Linked DNA regions of Homo sapiens. The protein of the gene in region 2 interacts with the protein of the main gene of each other region in a pairwise test. Each region holds a gene or a part of one and is shown on either strand. Other genes may lie near its edges.

Region 1 (4,482 bases), on a different chromosome or scaffold from region 2:
GCTGGTGAAGAGGGGAAGAGTGAACAGATGAAGTTGGAGACAGCAGTGGGTCACTCTAGGCCAGTGTAAGGACTCTGGGTTTATTCAGCATAACATGATATATTTGAATCCCACCTTGGGTCATGTTGGCCAGGTGCCGTGGCTCACACCTGTAATCCCAGCACTTTGGGAAGCTGAGGCAGGCGGATCACTTGAGGTCAGGAGTTCGAGACCAGCCTAGTCAATGTGGCAAAACCCCATCTCTACTAAAAATTCAAAAATTAGCCAGGTGTGGTGGTGGACACCTGTAATTCCAGCTACTTGGGAGGCTGAGACATGAGAATCACTTGAACCTGGGGGGGGCGGAGGTTGCAGTGAGCCAAGATGGCACCACTGCATTCCAGCCTGGGTGACAGTGAGACTCTGTCTCAAAAGAAAGAAAGAAAGGCCAGGTGCGGTGGCTCAAGCCTGTAATCCCAACACTTTGGGAGGCTGAGGTGGGCAGATCACAAGGTCAGGAGTTCGAGACCAGCCTGGCTAACATGGTGAAACCCTGTCTCTACTAAAAATACAAAAATTAGCTGGGTATGGTGGCAAATGCCTGTAATCCCAGCTGCTCAGGAGACTGATGCAGGAGAATCGCTTGAACCCAGGAGGTGGAGATTGCAGTGAGCTGAGATCATGCCACTGTACTCCAGCCTGGGCGACAGAGAGAAATCCCATCTCAAAAAAAAAAAAAGAATAAAAGAAAAGTTGTGTCATGTCACTGCACTACATAAAGGACGGCTTTACACAGTGCAGTGACATGACCCAACTTGGGTTTTTCTTTTTGAGATGGAGTTTCGCTCTTGTTGCCCAGGCTGGAGTGCAATGGCACGATCTTGGCTTATCGCAACCTCCACCTCTTGGGTTCAAGCGATTCTCTTGCCTCAGCCTCCCGAGTAGCTGGGATTACAGGCATGGGCCACCATGCCCAGCTAATTTTGTATTTTTAGTAGAGACGGGGTTTCTCCATGTTGGTCAGGTTGATCTCCAACTCCCAACCTCAGGTGACCCACCTGCCTTGGCCTCCCACAGTGCTGGGATTATAGACGTGAGCCACAGCGCCTGGCCCTTGGGTTTTAAATATATCAGTCCACCTGAGAAGTGTCTGAAGAGGGTTAAGACAGATCTGGGGAGATATATAGAAAGCTAATACAATAATCCAGGCAAGACACAGTGGCAACTTGGTGCAGGGTATTTAATGTCTTTGTTTCAATTAATTTAATTATAATGTTATAATGCCTCCATCTCAGGGCAGACAATTAGGCAACCCATCTCTACTACAAGATTTAGAATAGGCTGTCTTATACTTGTCTATTTGTTTTTCCGTGCTCCAATATGCTTTATAGTTCCTTATCCACTGTATAAAAGTAAAGCATTAGGGACTCATTAGGCAAGCAATAATGAATGACCAGTTCCGGGGCAGTAGAGATGCAATCCCTGCATTGGATGACGAGGTTGAACTGTTTCAATGTTAACATTCCTTGTTTAAAGTTAAATCCATGCTCAGTTCCCATTCTTACCAGGTATGTCATAAGGAGGTAGCTTAAGAACAAAGATTCCCCCAGAAGCACATGGTAAGGCAAACAGGGCCTCCCCATCACTGCTGAGCCAGGCTGTAGAGGCGGTGGAATTAGGAGATATTCCAGGTACTGCTGGAATTAACTGATAGTTGCAAGGATCTGTGAAATCAACTTTTCCAATGTCAGTGAATATTGACTGCATCTGACTGTCAACTACCAACTCCTGTTGAGTAATTAAAAAGAAAAATCTATTAAATCAAAATAACCAGAATTTTGCTCAGTTCCTCTCTATTGCTAAAAAAGTTTTTAAAGTAAAAAACTGTCAAGTTTAAGAAAGCTATTCTTCTTAATGAAAACTAATTCTCAACTTAAAATGTATGCCTGATCATTTTAAGCGGTAGCTATCAAAGTATGCTTGGTGAGGGATAACGAGAATCCAAATTTCCTTCAATTCCAAAAGACATCGCTCCAGCACTACATTTGTGACACCCAGAGTAATTTGGGAAATAAAAGATATTGCACTTAGCCAACTTACACTCCTATACATCCGGGAGGGGTGTGGTAAAAGTAACCTGTGCACTGTTTGATTGGTTAACATCAAGATTATCACACGATTCTGAGTCTCAGAGACATAAACCCCTCCAGGTAAAACACTGCAATTTTGGAATTTTAGGCGAATGGCATTATTCAACAGATTTATGTCCAGTGACTCCTCCATCAGCTCCAATGTATCTCCAGAGGTCTTCCTGTTGAAAAAGAGACATTTGTTTGAAAAGTTTATGCTTTTCTCACTGACTGTTCTACTGAAATATATGAGAACAGTGTCCAAGTGAACTCACCAAATTTGAAAATTTTGGATAAACAGATTTGGACCACTTTTGCATGCCAAATCACATTATGTACATTTATAAAAAACAGCATAACAAAATCCAAATTTCACTGTGATTCTGTTACATAGAGACATTTCCAAACTTGATAGGCCATTTATTTAGGACAATATTTTATGCAATTAACTCTACTATAATAAAAATTAACACCATACCCCGGCCATTGCTTGTAGTGGAATGTGGCCTCCATATATACTACAGCATCAAACAAAACTGACCTTAATAATTGCGGTTATTTCCTGTTTCTATTACTTCTTAACCTGCAATAGCATGCATGCGCACACATATACACACACACACACAGAATAGCAATTTTATACATGCGCTTACATGTATGTGCAAAAATATTACAAAAATAAATATTTTAATATAAAAATACCTTCGCAAATTGAACATATCAGGGTTAGTTTCTATACTAAGCTATTCTAACTTTCATTATTACTCCTCAAAAGGAGCTTGTTTATTTATTTTTTTCTTTTTTCCCCCACCCTCCCCAAAAGGAGCTTGTTTATTAATCCCAGCTGAGGAGCAAGGAGCCACTGGCAGCCACAGATCTCACTGCTGCACAGGGTTTTTAGAACTTCAGCCATAAAAATGGGCAGAATTTTCCTTGATCATATTCGTGGTACCTGTCCATTTTCTTATGCAAACTGTGATACAATCCTGACCAACCGCTCAGAATTCATCTCCACTTGGTTCACAGGCGCCACTGGCAGAGCATTTCTTTTTAACAAGGTAGTGAACCTGCAGTACAATGAAGCTCTAGATTGGGTCATGCTCACTGGCCACCACATGGTCCAACATGTGAGCTGAAAAACTGCAGCAGCAAACTGGGATGGATCTACGAGTTTGCCACCGAAGACAGCCAGTGTTACAAGGAAGGCCATGTGATCCTGGAACGTGCTCTAGTTCGAGAGATTGAGGGCTCTAAGGAGCATGTACCATCTGATAATTTTTGTTTGTTTGTTTGTTTTTTTTTTGAGACAGGGTCTCACTCTGTCAGGCTGGGGTGCAGTGGTGCAATCATAGCTCACTACAGCCTCGAACTCCTGGGCTCAGGCAATCCTCCCACCTCAACCTCCTCAGCAGCTGGGACTACAGGTGTGCACCACCACACCTGGCTAATTTTTGTATTTTTTAGTAGAGACGGGGTTTCACCATGTTGGCCAGGCTGATCTTGAACTCCTGGCCTCAAGCCTCCCAAAGTGCTACCTGCCTCGGCCTCCCAAAGTGCTGGGATTACAGGTGTGAGCCACCACACCTGGCCCTCTTACTTGACTCTTAGCAGCATTCCACATGATTACAGGTGTTAGCCACCATGCCTGGCCCTCTTACTTGATCTCTTAGCAGCATTCCACATATGTGACCTTGCCTTCCTTTTTAAACAGTCTCTTCTCATGAATCCTATGATACTACCCTCTCCCAGTTTTCCTCCCACATTCCTGTCCATTTCTTCCCCTTCTCCTTGACCTGACCCCTATATGCTAGATTTCCTCAAACCTTGATCCTGGACCATCTTCTCTCACTGTACACTTTCTCCCAAGGCACATCTTATCTACTCCCAAGGATGTAAGTACCTTTTCAGCGCTGATGATTTCCCAGAGCTACTTTGCTTCTGGTAACTCACGGCATCAGCACAATTTTCTGGATCCTCAACCTCATCTCTGAATAATTCCTTCGCTTTCCTGCCTTACGGTTAAAGTTGGATCCTGGATCTCCCGTGAGGACAGTGACCCCAGAGTTTTCTCTACCATGCCCTTTGGGGTGGGGCCTCAAGGAAAACATACAGATGTCCTTGTTCCCCACTGGCATTCTAGGCCACTGTTCCTCCTCTGCTACCCGAATCACTCAGCTCTGAAGCTCATGGAATCAGATACCACCTGCTACCCATGCTCACTGCAGTTGATTTTAGCTCCTGGCCCACTGTCACTCTCTCCCACACTACTCTCACCATAATTCTTAATGATTTCAGTATCAGGGCCAGGTACAATAGCTCATGCCTATGATCCCAGCATTTTGGGAGGCCAAGACAGGAGGATTTCTTCAGCCCA
Region 2 (4,345 bases):
CAGAAGAAAAACCATCTTAGACATATTTATAAACAAACATGGAAAAACTAAAACTGGGACATACACACAATGTGAAATATCTCATATTATCATCAGGAATTAGAAGTGATGACCAATAACTAATTCCTCATAAATACTTCCTCCTGTCTTAGTGTAATATAAACATATTTCGAAGAACAAAGTTTACTAAGAAAAAAACAACATTATACGATTTTAAAATAATTAAACACAATAAAGTTTAACAACAAAGTATAAGTTGGAACATGGTCCTGTAGCCTACTTTTAAGATCTAAAAAAAGAAAAAGAGGTTAGAGTTCTCAATGCTTACATAGGATAAAGTACATTTCACTCCTGAAACTAACAGGTAAAGGCAACCCTCTCATTTCTTGAGAATGTCTTATCTTACAGTCACTATATTAATCCACAAATGGAATCACTATTTTCTTCTGAGGATAACACTTCCTGCCTCTTTTTGGCATAACAGTATACAATCATCATGAGTTATCTTTTCCCAAAACAGCTTCCCCTACTAAAAGATAGAAGTTCTATTGGGTATTTTTTTTTTTTTTTTGAGATGGAGTCTTGCTCTGTCACCCAGGCTAAAGTGCAGTGGTGTAATCTTGGCTCACCACCACCTCTGCCTCCAGGGTTCAAGCGATTCTCATGGCTCAGCCTCCCAAGTAGCTGGGATCATAGGCACGTGCCATCACGTCCTGCTAATTTTGTTTTTGTATTTTTAGTAGAGGTGGGTTTTCAACATGTTGGCCAGGCTGGTTTTGAACTCCTGACCTCAAGTGATCCGCCCACCTCGGCCTCCCGAAGTGTTGGGATTACAGGCATGAGCCACTGCGCCCAGCCCTACTGGGTAATTTCATCAGACAACTTTTATATTTTGGTTAAGCCCTTATTCCAGAGAATCCATTTCTTATATACCCAAGCCCAACATAATCATCTCCTTAATTTCCATCCCTAAATAAAACCCACCCACTTCATGCATCAATTTTTCTAAGTATATGACAACAATTTTTGAACACACTAGCCTTAGAGATGATTTTTATATTTCTTGGACATATCCTGAAATGACAAATTCTTGTAAGAGTCACTATTGATAGCCCTTTGGCTATCCTGATGCTTTTAGGAATCCTTGCCCCATCACAGAGATTCTTAAAGAGAACCATGTCAAAATTCCTTGCTCTTTGCTTTTTCCTTTGTTAGTTCAAAATCTTCTTATGAAGGGGTAAACAAAACAATTTATATCATTTGGTTATAATATTTAACTGTATTAAAAAATTGACTAGGAAATTGCTATAAAATTTTTCATCTGTACTTTAAAGCATGTAAAAGTTGAACCCAAACATCTACATGGTTATAAAATTTCACTGAATTCTTTCTTTTAATTACCTGGAACATTCTCCTATCTCTTAAAAATATAATGTTCTTGATTCTACAATTATTTTAAGACACCTTAAGAATAGAAAACTGGAGTAAAAAATATTTACTGGCATTAAACATAAATCTCTAAAACCTCAAAAATAAGACCTACTCATCTCTGAAATAAATAATTTCTATACATCTCTGAACCACGTGACAGACACATACTAGGTATTTTCATTCACCTTTATTTAATCTTTACAGCAACTCCACAAAATAATGATTCCTATCTGTACTTTACAAGAGGAAATGAAGCTTCAAAAAGGGCATTAACTTGCAGGAATGGGCAGTTTGTCAAAATGTATTGGATTCTGTATGTGACTGACAAGCAGAACCATAATTTTATATGCTTCTGACTGTACCATGATGTATCCCAAAAATGTGATACAGCTGTCTTAGATAACGTTGATTTTAATGATCTTTGAGAGGGTGAACACAGTTCCATTGCCAACAGGTCCCATCTCAAAAACACTTAAGTTTCTTGGTAAGAACAGTGAAAATTCACAAAAAGGAGGCTGTTAAAGGTATACACTAGAAGTCATTTTTCAAGGTAACTTTTGATCCCATATATCAGATGTTCTAAGACTGTTAGAACACCTCGTCCAAAGGAATCTGCGTATAATAAACAGGGTTGAGCAATATAATCAATCACATATTTAAGAAACTGAAAACAATTTTTTACATTAAATTGAGTACACATACACATATATATACTCAACAACCACTTCCAGAATACCCTAAGATATTTTTTTCTCCTTGGATTTTTTTTCTTTTGAGATAGTCTCGCTCTGTCGCCCAGGCTGCAGTGAAGTGGCACGATCTTGGCTCACTGTAACCTCTGCCTTCCAGGTTCAAGTGATTCTCCTGCCTCAGTCTTCCAAACCATGCTTGGCTAATTTTTTTTATTTTTATTTTTTTAGTAGAGATAGGGTTTCACCATGTTGGCCAGGTTGGTCTTGAACTCCTCACCTCAAGTGATCCACTCCCTTCAGCCTCCCAAAGTGTTGGGATTACAAGTGTGAGCCATTGTACCTGGCCTTTTTTTCTCTTTTGATAAATGTGTCCCTGAGAATTAGAAAAACAGCATATACTCAAAGTATAGAAAACAGGATACACTTCAAATACTCCTTTTTTGATAAACTCAAAAGCATTATTTTTCCTTAGTCATCTCTTCTCTGGAGGTGAGCTGCTGAGTCAATATGATTTTGTAAGATTAAAAATATATATATATACACACACAGAGAACAGAGTAGAAAAATAATTTTTCAAACCATCAACATTTTATTTAATAAAAGCAACTGAGACATTTTCTAAAGTATACGGTATATTTGATATAAAAATTCTTCAAAATATGTACTATAGAAATTCTTCAAAATATGTACTAAAAATACAAAGTTTGTGAATCTAAGGTACAGAAAACACTTTATACTTCAGTCACCCAAAACAACAGCTTGTGGTCTCCTCCAATTACACACAGAGGGAGAGTTCGATGCCAGGACAGTCCAGATCCAACGGCTACAGAACCCATGAGGATGGGCTATAAAATATGTGAAGAATTAAAGAAGCACAGTAAGTCCCCAAAATTAATAAATAAAAATGACTTTCAAAAATATGAAATGCATTGATGATTTATCTTTGTAGCATAAACAAAATTTAAAAATATGCTCCCTTACAGGTGAAATACACATTATTGATACGCAGCTGAAACATGGGATACAATCCATCTATGAATAACTGGTACAGTCCAGACTCCATTTTTGCAGTCTACACCAACCAAACAAGCAAAATTAATGTATTTAAATAAAGAAGAAAATATAAAAGCAACAGAATAAAAAGCTTCTTATATGAATACTGGCCAAAAAAACCTGTTGTCACTGGTAATGTAAACATCAAAAAAAAACCACACAAAAAACAAAAACAAATGAACCACCTTTTCTTGCAATTTAAGCAGATAACAAACGTAAATGTCTTCAGTCAACAAATTACAAATTTGGGGCTATGAGTGGAAAAGTCAAAAACACAAATTAAAAAAAAAAAAAGCACGTATGTTACAAAACATTTCCACATTACCTGAGGGTGTCCTAAATGATGAATTTGAAACTGGCTTGCCATTTTGCCAGGATAACCAGTGGTTGCAAACAGATTTTCACTAATTGTGGACCACCTAAGAAATAAGGAAGCGTAAAATTAAGTATCGTATCCTATGGATAATGACAAGCTTTTCTGAAGCGGGCTTTTTCTTTTTCTTTTTCTTTTTTTTTAAGAGACAGGGTCTTGCTCTGTCACCCAGGCTGGAGTGCAGAAGTGCTAACAAAACTCACTGTAGCCTCAAATTCCTGGGCTCAAGTGATCTTCCCACCTCAGCCTCCCTAGTAGCTGGGACTACAGGTGTGTACTACGATGCCCAGGTAAGTTTTAATTTTTTGTTTTTTGTAGGAATGGGGTCTTGCTATCTTGCCCAGGCAGGTCTCAAACTCCTGGCCTCAAGTGATCCTCCTGCCTTGGTCTCCTGAAGTGCTGGGATTATAGGTATGAGCCATAGCACCTAGACAGAAACAGGTTTCTTTTTGTATAAAACCAGTGATTTTAATAATCCTAAATTTGTTAATATGTCTTTACAATTAGACCGGGAATTCCAGGAAAATATTCCATAAATATTTTCTCATACTTTAAGTTTTATGAAGTGCTTATTTTGTGTCATTTCATTAAGTTCCAAAGTTACACAAGGTTGATACAATCCTTTTTTTCACAACCAAAGGGGTAATAGTGTGGTAGAAGAAACAAATAAGGCATCAAATATGACAGCCATTCTGCCCCTTTTCCATGCTAAGTGAAGCCTAACTTTGTTCAGGGCACAGTGTGTCCTACCCTAGGGGATGAGACATAATTAGTTTAAGGCAGTCATAGCAATCTC

Evidence for each region. Proteins that work in one complex are often made in the same cells at the same time.
Region 1: the proteins of NUP37 (region 2) and NUP160 interact in a two-hybrid assay, tested with the Homo sapiens proteins (one study listed by BioGRID).

Annotation. Positions count from the first base shown.
Region 1 is NC_000011.10:47,838,299-47,842,780, forward strand, and holds part of NUP160 (nuclear pore complex protein Nup160), read right to left. Parts: intron 3,390-4,482; exon of another isoform or gene 2,946-3,389; intron 2,291-2,945; coding exon 2,080-2,290; coding exon of another isoform or gene 1,930-2,079; exon of another isoform or gene 1,768-1,929; coding exon 1,545-1,767; exon of another isoform or gene 1,203-1,544; intron 1-1,202. UniProt on the Homo sapiens protein: Functions as a component of the nuclear pore complex (NPC). Involved in poly(A)+ RNA transport.
Region 2 is NC_000012.12:102,071,500-102,075,844, forward strand, and holds the end of NUP37 (nucleoporin Nup37), read right to left. Parts: intron 3,596-4,345; coding exon 3,502-3,595; intron 2,969-3,501; coding exon 2,855-2,968; 3' UTR 1,604-2,854; downstream 1-1,603. UniProt on the Homo sapiens protein: Component of the Nup107-160 subcomplex of the nuclear pore complex (NPC). The Nup107-160 subcomplex is required for the assembly of a functional NPC.